2 separate regions of the Homo sapiens genome follow, and region 2 is linked to region 1. Evidence: fine-mapped expression QTL. Tissue or cell type: esophagus mucosa. Region 1 holds a variant in brackets; the other region holds the start of a gene. All regions are shown on one strand. Distances are between the middles of the regions.

The links. PIP is the estimated chance that this variant, and not a neighbour inherited with it, causes the effect.
Region 2: it holds the start of RHBDL3, and the variant in region 1 is the best candidate, but not a certain one, in a credible set for the expression of RHBDL3 in esophagus mucosa (GTEx, PIP 0.73).

What each region holds. Positions count from the first base shown.
Region 1 is chr17:32,061,813-32,072,557 of GRCh38, forward strand. No RefSeq gene overlaps it. Among named protein-coding and RNA genes, the nearest start is that of VILMIR, 16 kb to the right of the region's middle. The variant T/A (reference allele first, on the strand shown) is at 5,294.
Region 2 is chr17:32,259,767-32,269,020 of GRCh38, forward strand. RHBDL3 (rhomboid like 3) reads left to right here and starts at 6,066. Exons shown (of 9, transcript NM_138328.3): 1 at 6,066-6,534; 2 at 8,136-8,159. The coding sequence starts at 6,424. LOC105371731 (a long non-coding RNA gene) reads right to left here and starts at 5,685. Exons shown (of 3, transcript XR_934665.2): 1 at 5,499-5,685; 2 at 4,980-5,130.

The DNA.
Region 1 (10,745 bases):
ACTAAAGAGTGGAGGAAAGGAAGGGGAAAGGGATTTCACTGACAGCTGGAGCCTTAGTCCTCGGGCCAAATGAAGGACCTTCCCAGAACAGAGTGACCCAGAAGGAAGCTGTGGCCCAACCACCAAGATGGGTAACCCCGACAGGCGCAACCTGCCCTCTTGTCAATCAAGGCTGGACCAGGTGGTGTGGGGAAGGGGTGGAGGACTAAGAGAGGGGGCAAAGAGGAGGGTAGGAAGGTCCTGGCCTAAACGACCCAGTTAGTTTCGCCATCACCCCCTACCCCCATCCTGTATCCCAGGGAAGTATAGTGCAGCTGGGTTCTTGGTTGCCATGGCGACTGACAAAAAAAAAAAGACTTGAGGGGAGGAAAACACCCCGGGGCATGAAGAAGCAATTTGCTCTCAGGTCTGGGAGTCAGCACCGGAATCAGAATGTCCTAAGGAGGAAAGAAAACTGAGCGAGCCGGGCTTGGGTAGGTGGCAAACCTTCCCAAGGCCCCCTGCCAGCCATCCTAAGAGAGAGAGGGTAGGGGCGACCCCAGCTCTGTGTGGGAGGCGCCAACTCTAAGCCCCCACCCCCGAGGCTGCCCCTCCCACCCGAAGCGTTTAGCACCCAGGGTCTGGGGTGGGGGGCGAGGCGGGGGCGGGGCTTCCCAACGGATTGCTTTTTTTTTTTTTTTTTTTTTAATTTCCAGTTCCGCCTTGGGACGAGTCCCTGGCTGGGGGAACCGCATCAGGCCTGACACCCATCCCAGTCCCCCCTAAACCCAGAACGAGATCCAACCTCACTCCCCAGCCCCTTCCCGACCTCGCCGCTCAGGCTGTGATGGGAAGGTCCCTGGGAGTGGGGAGGAGGGCAAATTTAAACCCGGAGGGGATCCTGTAGCCCAGTTCCCTAAACCTCCAGGAAAGCGGAGAAAGTCACATTGTGGTGGCAGCTGCGGGTTTTTTTTTTTTTTAATCTGTTAATAAAACGCAAGTGAATCAAATCCGCCCTAAGGGAAGGTGGGGGGGCGCGGCGAGGCAGAGGCCATGGTGTTTGCAGAAGTTGGAAATTTAATAAGAAGGAAAAATAAAAATAGCCACTGTGCTGGAGAGAGAGAGAGAGAGAGAGAGAGAGAGAGAGAGAGAGAGAGAGAGAGAGAGAGAGTTGGGAGAAGCAGGCAAGTGTGGGACTCCTGGCTGGGTGGAAACGTGCAGAGGGGGCTGGGGAAGGCGAGGGCACCGCACCACTAGTCCGGAGGAGCAAGGGAGACACTGCTGGGGATACCAGGAGGGGAGTCTTTGGGGTGTCACCAGAACAGTCCAGTTCCTTGGCAGATTTTTCACCAGCAATGAGCTGGGCACAGAGGTTGGGGTTTGGCCCTCTAAACACCTGGGTGTAGAGGTCCAGCCTCTGGTTACTTGGTCTTCACAGCGCCCCCCACCTTCTGAGCTACTCAAGAGATGGGGGACAGTAGCAGTACTGCCAAGAACAGTTGTGCAAGTTGCGCACTGCACAAGCATGCCAGACAGAGGCTAGAGCAGAAGCTAACATCATCTGTTCCCCTCACCACACATTGCATCTGCCCAGAGGAAGAGGTACCTTTTATTTTATTTTATTTTATTTTATTTATTTTATTTTTTGAGATGGAGTCTCACTGTTATTGCCTGGGCTGGAGTGCAATGGCACGATCTCAGCTCACTGAAACCTCTGCCTCCCAGGTTCCAGAAATTCTCCTGCCTCAGCCTCCCCAGTAGCTGAGATTACAGGCACCCGCCACCACGCCCAGCTAATTTTTGTATTTTTAATAGAGACGAGGTTTCACCATGTTGGCCAGGCTGGTCTCGAACTCCTGACCTCAGGTGAGCTGCCCACCTCAGCCTCCCAAAGTGTTGGGATTACAGGCATGAGCCACGGCACCCAGCAAGGAAGGGGTACCTTTTAAAGATCTACACAAGGCCGGGCACCATGGCTCATGCCTGTAATCCCAGCACTTTGGGAGGCCAAGACGGAAGGATCGCCCAGGACCTGAAGACCAGCCTAAGCAGCATAGGGAGACCACCATCTCTACAATAAATAAATAATGACAAAATAAACATCCTGGCCGGGCGTTGTGGCTCACGCCTGTAATCCCACTGCTTTGAGAGGCCTAGGCAGGCAGATTGCTTGAGCTCAGGAGTTCAAGACCAGCTTGGGCAACATGGTGAATCCCTGTCTCTATGAAAAATACAAAAATTACCCAGGCATGGTGGCGCACAACTGTGGTCCCAGCTACTCAGGGGGCTGAGGTGGGAGGATAGCTGGAGTGGAGGCTGCAGTGAGCTGTGATCACGCCACTGCACACCAGCCTGTGTGACAGAGTGAGATCCAGCCTCAAAAAAAAAAGAAAAGTCCACACAAAGTTGACAGTGAACCAGCTGCATCTCTGAACACATCCAGTGATACCCCCTCCACCCCCCTCCAGGAAACCCAAGATTGCTGACAGGCCCAGCTACAGCAGCTTTGAGCTGGCTGCAGCCTGTGGGGTCCTCTGGGAGCAGCTGAATGGAATTTGTTCATGCTTTCACTCAACAAGTATTTACTGGGTGTTTATTTCATGCCAGGTGCCATGCTGGGCAGTGAATGAATGAACCTTGCTCTGGGGTTAACACTCCAGTGGGATGAACAGGCAAACCCCACAAGCACTGCATACGGTATGCAAAATGGGGTGCATGCTATGGAGGGACATACAGCTGGGAGGGGTGGGGGCGGGCAGGGGCCCTGGGTGCAATTTTTACAAAGTGACCTCACTGAGGAGGTGACATTGCAGCAAACCCAGAAGCAGGCAAGGAGGAGTCACGTGGCTGGCTGAGGGAACAGCATTTTAGGCAGGGGGAACAGCCTGTGCAAAGCACTGAGACCTTGTTTTGTGAATTGAGCGCCTTGAAATATGGGTTGCTTGGCCCTAGTTAAGGTTCTGAAAGAGCCTTTAATTTTTTTTCCCCTAGACCTGGGTGTGGCGGCTCATGCCTGTGATCCTAACTACTCAAGAGGCTGAGGTGGGAGGATCACTTAAGTCCAGAAGGTTGAGGCTGCAATGAGCCATGATCATACCACACGGCACTTCAGCCTGGGTGACAGAGCAAGACTTTGTCTCAAAAACAAAAAACAAAAAAATCCAATTCCGGCCAGGCGCAGTGGCTCATGCCTGTAATCCTAGCACTTTGGGAGGCCGAGGCAGCTGGATCACAAGGTCAGGAGTTCGAGACCAGCCTGGCCAAGATGGTGAAACCCCGTCTCTACTAAAAATAAAAAAAAATTAGCTGGGTGTGGTGGCATGTGCCTGTAGTCCCAGCTACTCAGGAGGCTGAGGCAGGAGAATTCCTTGAACCTGGGAGGCGGAGGTTGCAGTGAGCCGAGATCGTGCACTGCACTCTAGCCTGGGCGACAGAGCAAGACTCCATCTCAAAAAAAAAAAAAAAAAATCCAATTCCAACCTATACAAGGCAGCAGCTGTGAGGTGACACAAGTATGAACCCCATTAAGTCCCCCCAAAAGCCAAGAATCTTGGATTTCCTTCACAAGTGAATGACCCCCCCAATCTTAAAGGAAAATCATTCTAGCAGCAAATCCTAGACAGGAGTTACTATCAGCCAGATATTGCCATCTGCCTTAACTGGTTTAATCCTGACAGTGAACCCCAGTGATGTAGAAAATGTTACCACCATTTTTTTTTTTTTAATACAGAGTCTCGCTCTGTCCCCCAGGCTGGAGTGTGGTAGTACAATCTCGGTTCACTGCAACTTCTGACTCCTGGGTTCAGGTGATTCTCCTGCTTCAGCCTTCCAAGTAGCTGGCATTACAGGGGCACGCCACCACACCTGGCTAATTTTTATATTTTTAGTAGAGATGGAGTTTTGCCATGTTGGCCAGGCTGGTCTCGAAGTCCTGACCTCAGGTGATCTGCCCGCCTCAGCCTCCCAAAGTGCTGGGATTACAGGCGTGAGCCACCGTGCCCGGCTGTTATCACCATTTTACAGGTGGAGAAACCAAGACACAGAGCAATGCAGTGGCTCCCATGTGTGGATAAGAAGTAGCTTGTAGATTTGAACCCAGGACACCTTTCTGTGCATTGAGCCAGGCCGATCTGCACCCAGGCACCTGCCCAGGTGGATGCAGGGCCTGTGAGATTCTTCCAAGGCCTCCCATTTTGATGGGGTCCCCAGGCCTCCAGGCCTGCACTGGAGCTGGTCTGCTTCCAGGTGGAGCCAACGGAGGGTCCTGGTGCGGGGGAGTCGGCGTTGGCGGGTGATTGATGGTTTAATATCTCGCGCTGCGACCTGGGCCCCTCCTCTCCCACGCCTCTGTGGGTGGCCCCCAGTGAGAGGCGGAGATGGGATAATTCGGTTACCAAAAAGAGAATGAAAATTCCAGAGAGAGAAAGAGACAGAGAAAGAAGTGCAGACCAGGGAGTGCGCTGGGAGCTGATTTGGCAGGGCTGGGCTTGGATGGGAGGGAGGAGGCCGACTCTCAAATCCGGAATCCCTCTGGGGGCCTGGGGACTCATAGGTCCCAGCCGTCTTCAACTCCCATCTGACTTCCTGTCTTGAGAACAGAGACAGCAGATGTGACAAGTGAGAGGTCACAGGCAGGGGCAAGGCCTCAGAGGAGAGGGAAGCATGTGGCCTCCGCCTGGGACAACTGCTAGCAGGTGAGGCCAAGGGGAGGTAGGGACTAGTGGAGTTGGGGTGGAGGGAATGGGAGACTCCAAGTTCCCAGCTCAGAGGCTTCTGGTCATCCTTGACTGGAGTCCTCTCTCTCTTTTTTTTTTTAGATGGAGTCTTACTCTGTCGCCCAGGCTAGAGTGCAATGGCATAGTCTTGGCTCACTGCAACCTCCGCCTCCCGGGTTCGAGCAAGTCTGCTGTCTCAGCCTCCCGAGTAGCTGGGACTAGAGGCGTGCAGCACCACGCCTGGCTATTTTTTGTATTTTTGGTACAGACGGGGTTTCACTGTGTTGGCCAGGCTGGTCTCGAACTCCTGACCTCAAGTGATTCTCCCACCTTGGCCTCCCAAAGTGCTGGGATTACAGGCGTGAGCCACCGCGCCCCGCTGGAGTTCTCTCTTTTTTTCTCTTTCCATCCACGTTCAAACCTCGGACTTCATTTCTTCCCCACCTCCCCGGCCCTCACCTGGTCCAGCCCAGCATCCCTCACCTGGACTGTGCAGTTCCCTCTACCCTTGCTCAGGTCTCCAGCCTGGCCCTGAAGCCTGTTCCCTCCGCAGCCTCCAGAGGGCGCGAGCGAACACCTGATCAGGCCACGCCCCCTCC[T/A]CCCGCTCAGAACCCGGAAGGCTCCCAACTTGTGTTAATTTCCCATGGTTGCCGTCACAAGCTAGCGTTTTTTTAACGACGCAAATTATCCTACAGCTCTAGAGGTCAGAGATGTGGTTCGGGTCTCACCTGCCTAAGACCAAGATGTCAGCAGGCTGCAGTCCTTTCTTGGAGGTTTTAGGGGACGATCTATTTCTTGCTCATTTAGGGGTGCAAGATTCAGTTCCTCGGGATTGTAGAACTGAGGCCCCTGTTTTCTTGCTGGTTGTCTGTTCCCCGTTTCTAGAAGTTGCCTGCATTCCTTGGCTCGTGGGCCCTCCCTCCATTTTCAAAGCCAGCAATGACGAGTCAAGTCCTTCTCATATGACAGCCTTCAACTCCCCTCTGCCGCCCCCTTGCACTTTAAGGACTTGTGTGATTAGATGATCCAAGGTCATTTCCCTGTCTGAAGGTCCTTAATTACCTAATCAGCAAAGTCCCTTTTGTTGCATGAGGTAGCAATTCACTAACCTTGCTTCTCAGGGCCTGGCTGTGTCCAAAGGACTCTTTCTCCTTTAGACACTTTTAAGTGTTTCACCTGTCCTCTGCCTCTCCCTGGGCACCTGCTCCCTGCTCAGCCTGCCTCTCCCGCAATTCAAGCCAGTCATATGCTTGACACTCCTCCAGGAAGCCTCCCTGAAGTACCCATATTTATCAACCCGCTGGAGCAGTTACCAGCCCCTTTCTCCTATCCTCCCCAGGCCACGAGATCTTGAAAGTTTAGGATGAGGAAGTAGACATCTTGGGAAGGAGGGCATTATTCTCCTTACCAACTGCCTCACTCAGAGCAAAACTCCAGTCCTCACGGAGGCCAGAAAACCCAGCTTTCTCCAAGCAGATGGGCCTCCTTACTGTTCTCCAAACTCACCAAAGACATCCTGCCTCAGGGCCTTTGCACAGGCTGTTCCCTCTGCCTGAGTCATCCTCCCCCAGATATCCACATGGCTCCTCCCTCACCTCCTCCAGGTCTCCCTTCACTTGTGCCCCTCCCCAGGGAAGCCTTCTCTGATGCACACACACCCAATTTACAACATCCACAGACTCTTATTGCTGCTTTTTTTTTTTTTTTTTGAGACAGGGTCTCGCTGTGTTGCTCAGGCTGGAGTGCAGTGGTGTGCTCTCAGCTCACTGCAACCTCCACCTCCGAGTTCAAGTGATTCTCCTGCCTCAGTCTACTCAGTAGCTGGGATTACAGGCATGCTCCATGACACCTGGCTAATTTTTGTATTTTTAGTAGAGACGGGGTTTTGCCATGCTGACCAGGCTGGTTTTGAACTCCTAGCCTCAAGTGATCCGCCCGCCTCGGCCTACCAAAGTGCTGGGATTACAGGCCTGAGGCTGCTGTATTTTCTCCATTGCACTGGCTACTTTTGGCTACACCACAGAATATTCACTCCTTGTTCATCTTGTCATCGCCCAGGTCTCCCACTGGAAAGTCAGCTCCAAAAGGGAAGTTCCTCCACACTGTTCTCTCCTGGCTCTGTATGCTGCCCCCTTCCCTGGCCCTTGGCATACAGCAGGTGCTCAATAAGTGTTAGGGCTGGGCGCAGTGGCTCACGCCTGTAACTACCAGCACTTTGAGAGGCCGAGCGGACAGATTTGAGCCCAGGAGTTCAAGACCAGCCTGGCCAACATGGCAAAACCCCGTCTTTACTAAAAATACAAAAATTATCCAGGTGTGGTGATGCATGCCTGTAATCCCAACTACTCGAGAGGCTGAGAAATGAGAATTGCTTAAACCTGGGAGGCAGAGGCTGCAGTGAGCAGTGATCATGCCACTGCACTCCAGCATGGGCATCAGAGCGAGACTGTGTTTCAAAAAATAATAATAAGTGTTTGTTGAGTGAATGGATGGCAGGCAGGCAGGGCCCCAGCCCAGAGGAGGATGGGGACCCAGTGGAAGGTGGGAGCGGCAGGTGGAGAGGGATTGGTGTGGAGATGTTAGAGAAAAAGACCTTCTAGAACAATCCTGGGGGTCAGGTGGTCCCTGTGATGAAATGAACCAGCATTGTGTGAATTCAGTCAAGGGCTGATCTCTCATGATCTCTATAACGTGCTTTTCACAGGGAAACGTGTCCCCCCTGCCCCACAATCCCCTTGATAAAATCTTAGCTTTATGACTTTGTTCTCTGTTCATCTCAGATAACAGATGTTCCTGGAGTTGCCTTAGTCACAGGGCAGCTTGGCTTCAATTCAAAACAAGGAATGTCCAGACCCAGGCTGGGGCCTTGATTTAGACTTCAATCCTATTTCCTTCTGCCTCTCCTCCATCCCCACCAGCATCATGTTCTGGGGGTCTGGGTAGTGCAGGGGCCCCTTCCTTCTTGCTTTCCTCTCCTTTCCTTTCACGGCCAGGGCTGCAGCTCCAGGAGGGAATATAGTGTGTCAAATGGTGGCCCCCAAAAAGGATGTGTCCACATTCTGGCCCCTGCAACCTGTGAACGTGATGTTATTATATTCACTTTTTTTTTTTTTTTTGAGATGAAGTCTTGCTCTTGTCTCCCAACTGGAGTGCAATGGCGCAATCAAGGCTCGCTGCAACCTCCGCCTCCCAGGTTCAAGTGATTCTCCTGCCTCAGCCTCCTGAGTAGCTGGGATTACAGGCGCCTGCCACCACGTCCCCTAATTTTTGTGTTTTTAGGAGAGACGGGCTTTCCCCATGTTGGCCAGGCTGGTCTCAAACTCCTGATCTCAGATGATCCGCCTGCCTCGGCCTCCCAAAGTGCTGGGATTACAGGCATGAGCCACCACGCCTGGCCAACTTATTTTTTTTTTTTAAAGACATGGTCTTGCTCTGTCACTCAGCGTGGCTAGAGAGCAATGGCATGATTTCGGCTCACTGCAGCCTGGACCTCCCAGGCTCAAGTGATCTTCTCACCTCAGCCTTCCAAGTAGCTGGGACCACAGGCATGCAACACCATGCCTGGCTAATTTTTGTATTTTTTGCAGAGAGAGATTCTTGCTATGTTTCCCGGGCTGGTCTCAAAGTCCTGGCCTCGAGAGAGCCTCCCACCTCGGACTCCCAAAGTGCTGGGATTACAGGCGCGAGCCACTGCGCCTGGCCTGAATGTGATCTTAGGTGGATAAACTGTAACTGTCATAGGCCCATTGTTTGAGGCACTGGGCAAGTCAACATGCTGAGATACCAGTTTGCAGCAGAGAAGGAGGTTTAATCATAGGGCCACAGATCGAGGAGATGGGAGCAAATCTAAAATCCATCTCCTGGGTGGGTGTGGTGGCTCACACCTGTAATCCCAGCACTTTAGGAGGCTGAGGTGGGCAGATCACTTGAGGCCAGGAGTTTGAGACCAGCCTGGCCAACATGGCAAAACCCTGTCTCTACTAAAAATACAAAAATTAGCCGGGCGTGGTGGTGCATGCCTGTAGTCCCAGCTACTTGGGAGGCTGAGGTGGGAGAATCAGTTGAACCTGGGAGATGAAGGTGGTAGTGAGCCAAGATCGCACCTCTGCACTCCAGCCTGGGTGACAGAGTGAGACTCTCTCAGAAAACAAACAAACAAAAATTTATAAATAAAAATGAAATAAAATTTAAAAATTCATCTCCCCGAGGAATTTGGGGCTGGGGTTTTTAAGGGGTATGGAGTGGGCCCAAGTGTGGAGATCCTTTGATTGGTCAAAGAGTGCAAGGTGAAGTCTTGGGACAGAGGATTGGGCGGGAGTTGAGGGACAAGGGGTGGGTGAAGAAGCTGTATTCTCATGCTGATCCCATTCCTATATGCGGGGTCTTCTTCAGACTGGTTGCTGGAATTCAAGATCTGCAAAAACATCTGAAGTGATCCTTAAGCAAAAGCCATATGATCCTGACTGGGCGCAGTGGCTCACGCCTGTAACACCAGCACTTGGAGGCCGAGGCGGGTGGATCACTTGAGGTCAGGAGTTCAAGATCAGCCTGGCCAACATGGTAAAACCCCTTCTTTACTAAAAATGCAAAAATTAGCCAGGCGTGGTGGTGCACGCCTGTAATCCCGGCTACTCTGGAGGCTGAGGCAGGAGAATCGCTGGAACCCGGGAGGCAGCGGTTACAGTGAGCTGAGATCACATCAATGCACTCCAGCCTGGGTGACAGAGCAAGACTCCATCTCAAAAAAAAAAAAAAAAAAAAAAAAAAAAAAAAAAAAAAAAAAGCCATATGCTCCTAATGTCAGAGATCCTGTCTGTAGAAACAATGGGATGTATTTGTGTTTTGTTTTGTTTTGAGACAGAATTTCGCTCCTGATGCCCAGGCTGGAGTGCAATGGCGCGATCTCGGCTCACTGCAACCTCTGCCTCCTGGGATCAAGCGATTCTCCTGCCTCAGCCTCCCCAGTAGCTGGGCTTACAGGCATGCACCACCATGCCTGGCTAATTTTTGTATCTTTGGTAGAGATGGGGTTTCTCCATGTTGGTCAGGCTGGTCTCGAACTCCCAACCTCAGGTGATCCACCCGCCTTGGCCTCCCAAAGTGCTGGGATTACAGGCGTGAGCCACTGCGCCCGGTGAAACAATGGGGTGTAAAAGTGCTACCTGACTTTTAGCAGCAAGGAAGGGGGCCCTAGTGCAGCCCGATTCATGGTTCATTGTAACTGTATTTCTGTCTGGAATCTAGCATGCAATCCTTGTCAACTCTGTAGGAGGGATTTTGAAAGGGTCATTGCAGATATTAGAATTCTCAAGATGAGATCATCCTGGAAAACATGGTAGTCCTAAATCCACAGACGACTCTCCTTAGGAGAGACACATAGAGGAGACACAGTAGAGAAGGACCTGTGAAGACGGAAGCAGAGGTTGGAAGGCTGTGGTTGCCACCGAGGAACGCCTGGAGCCCTCACAAGCTGGAAGGGGCCAGGAGGGATTCTTCCCTAGATCCTCTGTGGGGAGCGTGGCCCTGCAGATGCTTTGATTTCAGACTTCTGGCCTGTAGAACTGTGAGAAAATAGGTTTCTGTTGTTTTAAGTGACTCAGTTTGTGGTACTGTTATAGCGGCCACAGGAAGGAAACAAATCCGGGGGTCAGATGGTTCTCATTGCACTGGGTCTGCTGTCAGCCAACCTTGCCTCTCAGGGCCTAGTGGTGTTCAGAATGAAATCTTTCACTTTCTTTTTTTTTTTTTTTGAGACAAGGTCTCACTCTGTCACCCAGGCTGGAATGATGTAGTGGGGCAATCTTGGCTCACTGCAACTTCTGCCTCCCAAGTTCCAGCGATTCTCCTGTCTCAGGCCAAGTCAGGTGGATCACTTGAGGTCAGGAGTTCAAGACCAGCCTCACCAGTGAAACCTCATCTCTACTAAAAAAAAAAAAAAAAATACAAAAATTAGCCGGGCGTGGTGGTGTCCACCTGTAGTCCCAGCTACTCGGAGGCTGAGGTGGGAGAATCACTTGAACCCAGGATGTAGAGGTTGCAGTGAGCTGAGAT
Region 2 (9,254 bases), 200 kb after region 1:
GCTGGACAAGCCCTATTTGTGCGCTGGGATTCAGCCTGGTCCAGTTGCCCTGGGAAAGCAGTCTCTGCAGACAGTGGTCAGCGGTCGGGGCCAAGGGCACTCACTACCATCAGGGGCTTTTGTATTTCACTCTTTAAATAAGAACTTTGGTGACAGGCATGGAGAATCAAACCTCCCCGGGGCCCAGGGATTTTAGTGTCCCCATTTATAAAATGGAGGCAATTGTATCTGTTCTGCTCACCTCAGAAAGGCTTGCTTTTTGAGGATGAAATGCAATGGCAAATGCGGAAGTATTTTGAAATAAAGGCAGCAGGCATACAGGCGCATTATTATTATGCAGAAGAATTTTTTTCTCCATAACATAAAAGTTGTCTCTTGTTGCAGGTTGAGAGTAATAACTATATAATTAGACTTTGTGTCATATCAAGAGAGGCATCCCCTTTTTTTCATTAAACAGACATTTGTTCAGTTTCTACAGTGTGCAATGTTGTGCATTGCGAAGGATGCAGAATTGAATAAGCCATAATCCTCCCCTTCAAGGAATGTACGTTCTAGTATCAGGAAGATAAAACTTAGAAGATATAATTCAAAGTCAAAAGGAAAAAGGGATTCAGAGGAAGGAGTGGTTCATTTGGGTTGGAGAGTTGAGGAAAGGCTTTGTGGAGGAGAGAGCATTCGTCAGAGAGATGGGCAAGATTCTCTCCTTTATTTTAAGGGATCCTCCCACCTCAGCCTCCCAAGTAGCTAGGACTACAGGTCCCATGCCACCACACCTGGCTAGGTTTTAATTTTTTTTTTTTTTTTTTTTTTTGTGAGACGGAGTCTCGCTCTGTCGCCCAGGCTGGAGTGCAGTGGCGTGATCTCGGCTCACTGCAGGCTCTGCCCCACTGGTTCACGCCATTCTCTCGCCTCAGCCTCCCGAGTAGCTGGGACTACAAGTGCCCGCCACCAGGCCCGGCAAATGTTTTATATTTTTAATAGAGACAGGGTTTCACCGTGTTAGCCAGGATGGCCTCGATCTCCTGACCTCGTGATCTGCCCGCCTTGGCCTCCCAAAGTGCTGGGATTACAGGCGTGAGCCACCGCGCCCGGCCGGTTTTAAATTTTTTTGTAGAGGCAGGGTCTTGCTATGTTGCCCAGGCTGGTTTTGAACTCCTGGACTCAAGTGATCCTCCCACCTTGGCCTCCCAAAGTGCTGGGATTATAGGTGTGAGCCACTGTGACTGGCTGATGGGTAAGATAGAACAGGTGGTTTACTGAAGACACAGGACCTGCCTATAGCACAGTGAAGGTCATATGGAAGTCTTGAGGCCCAATGAGAATTCAGAAATGGGACCCTGGGGACCAGCCAGGCCCCAAGGAGGTGGCAGGAAAGGAAGGTAAGACCTGGCAAAGTAGCTGATTGTTTCCCTGAATGTGTGACTGGCTAAATCTTGGGACTGGGAAAGTTTTTTTCTGTGCTTTTCTGAGCTCAACTTCTGGGTGCCCACGCCTTGCTTTGAAAGGGTTTGGTCTGTGAACCTACACATCTCTCAGTAATGATTTAAGTTACTCAGAAAACTGGGAGCCCTGGAGTGAAAGGAAGAGACGAAAGGGAAAGAAATCCATGTAGCAGTCTTGCTCCGTTTGATCTGGCAGACAGCGGGCGATGATGGAAGAATGCTGGAGATGGAGGTGGAGGGTGGTCGGATTCTGCCATCCTGAGCCATGTCTGCTGTTTGGACTTGCAGACTTCAAACACGGCTGGGGGATTCCCGGAAGACAAAAGAATTCAGGGCCGGGACTTGGATCTCAGTCAAAAATAACTTACGTCTTCATCTCAGGAAGGCAAACAGTGGTAGCTCAGGGCTGGTTTCTCAGAAGATTAGAGCTACAGGTGGGGACAGGGTGCCACGAAGGTCAGTTTAGGTTTAAGCTGGCTGCAGAGAGAGAAGGGGCTCGGAGGGTGTGGGTCTGGCAGAGGGAGATGTCAGAATGAACCCCAAGTGAAAGAGGTTCTGGAGAAAAAGTCATCCCTGTTTGCCCCCCTTCTGGGCATTGCCATTGCTTTGAGCAATAATTACAGCCCTTCATGTTTCTTCCCTGGCTTCTCATTAGCTCAAGGTGTCCACAAACAAACTGCTCAGCCCCCTTTGCCTTCCTCTCCCCGCTTCCAGCAGCTACTCCTGGCTTTTCCATGGCAGCCAACTGTCCCAGTTCCCAGGACCAGAACATCGGGTCCTTAAAAAAACTCCTTCCTCTCTTGGAGGGCACATTTGAGAGACTCAGCCCTGGAAAGGCTCTTCTCTCTCTCCTCCCCCTTATCCCACTGGACTGTCATTAGAGGATGACCTCATTTTCCCCCAGGAGGCCAGGGCCCGGGTCTCATCCCCTTTGTACTATCAGTACCTCGGCCAGGGTCTGGCACATAATGGACACTCAGCACGTGTGAGCTGAATGGCACTGCTGAGCTGTCGCCAACTTAATCTTCCTAAAATGCTGCTCCAGTTAGAAGCCATCACCGCTTCTCTATCTCCCACTGGGCGAGGTCCAACCTCCTCAGACTGGCACTCGGGGACTCTGGCGACACAGTGCTCCTCGCCTGCCCGGCCATCCTCACTTTGTGCTCAGCCACTTCATGGTTCCCAACACAGTCAACAGCTTTCCTATCTCTGTGTCTTTGCCGCAGCAGTTCCCTCCACCTAGAAACCCTTCCACGTTCTCTACCACAAGCTTGCCCCTTTCAAGGCTCATCTCAACATCATGCTCCTGCCCTTCTAAACCGAGTTTGATCCACCCTTCCCCAGCCCTTCATCCTGCTCTGCGTTGACTTCAAGTGTCTTGTTAGGAACCTTAAAAGAGGCCATGGTGTAGCGCACTTGCAAAATGAAGAGCAAGGAAGAAGTGCCAATAGGCCCAGTTCCGTGTCACTTCTCATTAGCGCCAAAGGTTCTCCCAGGGAGGGGCCTCTGCATGGCACACCTCCAGGCATCGACGAGTGCCTGCCTGCTGCAGCTGGTCAGTGAAAGTGACACCATGCCTACTCCCTCCTCTGCCCCCAAAATGCCACAGAATATGCCAGTCCTTAGGCTGTCTCAGGTGAGAGTAGAACAAAAGGTGTCAGGGTGCCTAGCCACTCCTATCCCCTGGAGCTTTCTAGGCCTGGACCCCAGGCCCCATGTCCTACTGCCTGCTCGGGAGTGGGTTGCAGATTCGCCTGGAGCTGAGGGGCAGAGTGGTCTGACCAGCTGGGCGTAGGTGACATTGAGGACAACAGGTAAAGGGTGGCCTCAGGCTCATGGAGGATGATGGATGTAACAACTTGTCCTAACAGTCTCCAAGTCCAGACACCATCACCTCCCAGCAAGGGCCAAGGTGAGAGAAGCTGCCCCGTGAAGCAAGAATCCTGGTGAGAGATCAGGAATTCCTTCTTAGGAGACTTTTGGAAACATAGCCTGCCAAGGCGGGGTAAATGTTCCTAGGGACAGAAGGAGGAACAAGATAGCCTTCTGGATGTTTCCCATCTTCCCTCTCCCTTTTATTCTAACTGCTGCCGCCCTTGTGACCTCTTCCTTGGACAGCACCTCTCATGGCCCTCTGCTCAGGCCAACCTCCCTCCTGTCTAGACTCTACACTACAGCCAAAGGGATCTTTTTTGTTTGTTTTGAGACGGAGTCTCACTCTGTCGCCCAGGCTGGAGTGCAGTGGCAGATCTCGGCTCACTGCAAGCTCCGCTTCCTGTGGTCAAGTGATTCTCCTGCCTTAGCCTCCCGAGTAGCTGGGATTACAGGCGCCCACCACCACGCCCGGCTAATTTTTTGTATTTTTTTAGTAGAGACAGGGTTTCAACGTGTTAGCCAGGACGGTCTCGATCTCCTGACCTCGTGATCCGCCCGCCTTGGTCTCCCAAAGTGCTGGGATTACAGCCGTGAGCCACCGCGCCTGGCCAGGGATCTTTTAAATATTACTCTACTGCTCACAATCCTTCAATGGCTCCCTATTGCCCTTAGGTAAAGTCCAAGCTCTTTTCCCATGAAACTCACAGCCCCTCACAACCTTCCCGTCCAGGCTGGGCTCTTTAGATTGGTCATCGTGCTCCAGTTTCCAGCCATGCCAAACTGCTTGTCGTTTGCCTCCCATATGATGCTGCTCCACAAGCCTGGTCGTGCTGTTCCCTCTACCTGGAACACCTCCTTCACCTTTTCCATGTTGCCTAGTTCTGGAGGCTTATCCTTTGGGAAGCCTTCCTGGACCCACAGCGACCCCCTCCTTTGGAGTTCTACACCTTCTGGGCTTCCCTTGAATCCAGGACTTACCCTTGTGTTGAATGTGACTGTCACCCCCAATTATCCATTTCTGGAGGGCAGGGTCTGGTTCTTATCCACCTCTGTATTCTCAAAGCTCTGTCATTGGTACTTAGTAGGAGCTTAATACATGTTCAGGAACAGAACTGAGCCTGCTAAGCTCCCTTCCCCACGAAGGGATGACAGAGTTGGATATGTTGATAAGAGCTGTCCCTGGGCTGATGAAGAGGCAGCTCCCTGGGTAGCTGGTATCAGAACACTGTCCAGGGTGGCTGGGCATCCCAGCAGAGTGGCCAACCCTTTTCTGTGCCCTTCTCCTTCCAGTTCCCCTGGAACCAGACTTCCTGGCCCACTTCTCTAGTCCCAGAGATCTAAGTATAACAGAGCCAACACCCATACCGGTCATGCAAATGACAGCCTGGGATGCGGGAGGCAGCGACACAGACCCCAGGGCCCCAGCGGTCATTTGTCCTTCTGGGCTCCTCTTCACAAAGGAATCAGCCTCTCTTCTGTCCCCTGAAGGCTGTTTTCAAAATCACACCCCATGCAGACAGTTTTATTTACAAGGAAATCTTGGCAGGATCTTGACTTGTTAGTAGAGTAGGGATGGGGAGGAGGGTGGTGAGAAACAAAAATAGTTGAAATGATCACACTTTCTGAAACAGAGATGAAAATTGGTGTCTGTAGCAAACTCACCTAATTAGAATCAAGTGAATTCCCTTCTCGGTGTTTAAGGGGAGCAGTCATTGCTGGGTGATGGTCGCAGTTCGGATCCTGGGCACGGGGTTATGTCTTTGCTTTCTGAAGATGACTGCATTAGTTGCAGCTCTCACTAATGGAAAGGAGCCTGTTCCGTTTCCCAGAGGAAGGAAGAGGGCAAAGACTAGTGAGTGAGTGGGTGGTGGGAAGAGGAAAGCAAGAGGAGTGGAAGGGCACAGCCTTGGTGTGGGCTGGGGACTGACTGCGAGATGCCTCCTGGAGAAGCTCCTGAGCCTCTGGGGAGAGCTGGCCCCTGCCAGGCCGGCCACTAGCACCATTTACAGCCAGAGCCTCTGCTTCGGGAGATGGTCTCTCTTGGGGGCGCTTTCCTGCAGGGAAACAGCATCGATTGTTTTCTTTAAAAGATCCCCTACTCCGTTTTGGCTAACTTCCTTTCTGATTGCTTTAGTTTCTTTACCGTCCCTCTCCCCAGATGGGGCATTTCCCTGGGCTTACCTTTGTCCATGTGGTCAAATGAAGCCTGGGCATGGTCACTTAGCTCTGGGTGTAGGAAGGGCAAGATTTAGGCTTTGGGGCCCACGACCCCGCAATCTGACTTCTCCCATTTCTGGGCCTCCCGAGACCTCCCAGAATCTGAGACCGCAGTGAATAGGGCGTAAGGATAATGGGGCGGGAGGCAGGAATCCCGTCCTTACAACATCGCGCCCCCAATTCACTCCTAGTTAACCCTGACGTCGCCAACATAGTGTCTCCATCACATATCTGCCACCTCCAAGTGATGGTTAAGCCGATGGAAGAGCCAAGCCCGGGCCCGGAGTGCAGGCCGGTGGTGACCGGGCCGGGGACGGCGCAGTCCCCATCCCCGCCCCGGGCAGCGCCACCACTTCCTCGCCAGCCCCGCCGCAGCCCTCCCGCTCCCGGGCCGCGCCGCTCTGACCGACTGGGCCCGGGTGGCGGCGCCCGGGGTGGGGTGCGGGGCGGGGGCCGGCGTTCCCCGCGAGCAGCCCCGCCCCCGCCCGCGCGCCGCCCCCGAGGACTCCGCGGGGAGGAGGAGACTCGGGCGCAGAGCGGGGGCCGCGAGAAGCGGGAAGGGAGCGCGGGGAGCGGCGGGGCCGGGGCCGGCCCAAGGGCGCCCTCGCCTCGGAGCCGGGCGCGAGGGCCGGGGCGGAGGCGGAGGCCGGCGGGGCAGCTAGCGCAGTGAAGTTTGGCGGCGGAGGGGCCGGGCGTCCCGGGGTCGCGAGGAGGCGGCGGCGGCGCGGGGACCGGGGCCATGGGGGCGGGCGCGGGCTGCGGAGCGGGCGCGGAGGCGGCGCGGCGCGCACTGAGCCCCTGGAGCGGCGCGGCCGCCGCGGCGCAAAGTTAGCCCGGCGCCCCGGGACGAGCCCCGCAGCCGCCGCCGCCCCCGGACCCCGTCTCGGCCATGGGCGAGCACCCCAGCCCGGGCCCCGCGGTGGCCGCCTGCGCCGAGGCGGAGCGCATCGAGGAGCTGGAACCCGAGGCCGAGGAGCGGCTGCCCGCGGCGCCGGAGGACGTGAGTGCCCCCTCCCCGCCCGGCAAACTTTCTAGGGGGCGCCGGGGGGAAAAGCCGCCCCTGTCTCGCCCCACGCCGGGCAACTTGGAGGTTTCAGGGTGACGCGGGAGCGCCCCGGATTGGCCGGGTCCCCGCGGGCAGGAGGGGGCGGAGGGACCGGTCTCCCCGAAACGCGCGCGCACCGCTTCCCCCGCTCTGGTTCCCGCGGCTTCCCTGCGGGACACAGCACCGCCACTGCGCCGCGGACCTGTCACCGCCGGAGCCCCCTCCCCGCCGCTGGTGCAGTGCCCGGGACACGGCGTTTTCCCGCAGAGGCGGCCGCGTCACGGCGGTGACTCCCCCTCCCCTCACGCCCGCGACCTGCGAGCTCCCGGAGCTGGGGAAGGAGCGGACGCCGCAGAGTCCCCGTCCCTGGCCATGCAAGCCGGCCTGGCGACCCCTTCCTCCGCTCCCGGATTAGCTCCCGCCCGGCACCTGCCTTGCCGCGACACTGATTGAAATTCAAGCCGGCCCCCGCCTCTGACCCCGGCCGGAGCAGGGAGGCAAAGAGTGCTGGGAGCGGCTTTGCTCCTAGAAGGAGGCCCGGGAGTCCAAGACCGTGGCGGTGCCAGGGGACGGTCCCCTGGGCGAGGAGAGGGAGGGGCTGCCCCGAGGGCTTCCCCGCCGTCTGCTGCTCGGGTCTCCATCCCTCCGGTCCTGCGGGCCGGCCCTGCGAAGCCCTGGGAACTGGAGTTTCTTGGGTTAACCTCCCGGGGCTAACCTACACATAGGGGTGAAAAACCGGGCAGACACCCTGCCCTGCCCACTCCTCCCTCAGGGTGGGGAGATGGAAGTGAAACCAGGCCCCCAACCCACACAACGAAAGCGGGAAAGTCTGAATGGGGTTGGGGGGTAGTTTACGATCTTCTCTCTTTGGCGTCTGCGGTTAAATCTATCACTTCCTTCTGGCCCTAAACCCCTGGCAGAATCTGATGTAGTCACCACTTAGACTCAGCCTTGGAAGAGAATGGGTGGGCTTCACCGCATTCGGCATTCACCACCCCCCCTTCCCCGCAAAAAAACAAAAAACGAACAAACAAACAAAAAACTGCAGGCAAAATGTTAGTGTTTATGCAGAGGTGAGTTCTCCTGGGGGGGGAGGGGGGGGCTCTAGCTCCCAGCAGGTGAGACTCATTGCGCCGGGGTCTGATGGAATTGCACCTGGCCATGCTCTCCCAGGCCTGGGAGTAGCTGTGGACATAAGCTTTAGGCAGCAGAAATTATTAGAGGCGCTTGGACATATTTGGACGCCTTTATTTAGTAATTGTTGAGAATCACTTGTTCTGCCAGTTCCAGAACCAGCAACACCCACCTTGCCGCCCCCGCCCCCACCCCATCCCTTACTGTGAGTTTCCTCCCTCTGCTCAGTGTGGACTCATTGGGGAGCTCCTCCCAGACTTCCCCTGCTCTCCTGTGGCCAGTCCCTGAGCCTGGTCATGACTCCTGGGCAGCCGCTGGGAGGCTATGTCAGAAACATCCGAGGACTACAGAGACCTTGGTGATAAGTGTGTCTTTCTTTCTCTCCTCTTCTTCCTCTCCTGCATGGCCTCCCTCTCTGCCAGCACTGGAAAGTCCTGTTTGATCAGGTATGTGAGCAGTTAACCCCCCATTTCCTTCCAGCCCTCCCTGAAATCGGTCTCAGTCTCCCTGCTTGCGTGGGCTTCCCTAGCTCCGCGCTCCTGAGATGGTGACGTGGGGTGGGGGTGTGGCTTTGTGCATCTCTAGGGCTGAACGACACTGCTCTCCAGGTATCAGGAGGAAGAGATGGGCTCCCCTGAGAGGATCTCCCTCCTGCCTCCTCCCTACTCTGCTGCACCAGAGCCGGGTTTACACCATGTAGAAATTGGACGTTATATATTGAATGCCTGGGAAATCCTCCATATGCCAGGGGATTGCAGTAGGGGGCTGGAGAGGTGGGGGAAGGGCTTGGGCTGACAATCCCTCTCCGTTTCTACCTCCACTATGGAGGGTCCATGGCCACCGCTGAAGTCAAATCTCTGCCATCCTTGGGGGCTGACTCACAGTATGGACTCTTTTGAAGTCTAATTCAATGTCTTTAATTCTGTCATAGGGATGAGGGAGTGCTGGGAGGTTACAGAGGGGAAATTGTGTGTGATTCTTCGCAATGCCTGGAGTCCAGGTGTAGGGCATGGAGTTGGGGGTGCCAAGTATTGGCTTTTGAACCTGGAGATGGACATTTGACCTTCAGCAAGGAAATGGTTCTCCTCTTAGCATTCGTGGTGGGTGCTGTTATGTGCTTCCTTCTCCCTCTTTGCCCCATGTTGGAGGATAGTTGAGTGCTATAGTCCTGGGGTGAGAATGATTGTGCCATGAAGTTTGTGCAACTTTAAGAAATTGGTGTGAGTGGGCCAGAGGGAATGTGTTGGGTAGGAGAAGGAGATAAAGCTGAAAAATTAGCTTGAACCAGGACTTCGTTGTAGGCAGGGGAAGCCTTAGAAAGTTTTTTAGCAGGGTTGTTATGTGATCCAAGCCAGGCTTGGGAAAGCTCCAGTGTCTTAGGGGATAAGGAGTGAATGGGCTACGGGGATGAGGGAAGCTAGGCAGGAGCTGCAGCACTGAACAGAGGCAAGAAGGTGACAGTGAGGATGGACGGGAAGAGGGACATGGTGATGGAAGAATTGGAAGATCTTAATAGACCGTAGGTGAGGGGAACCACATAT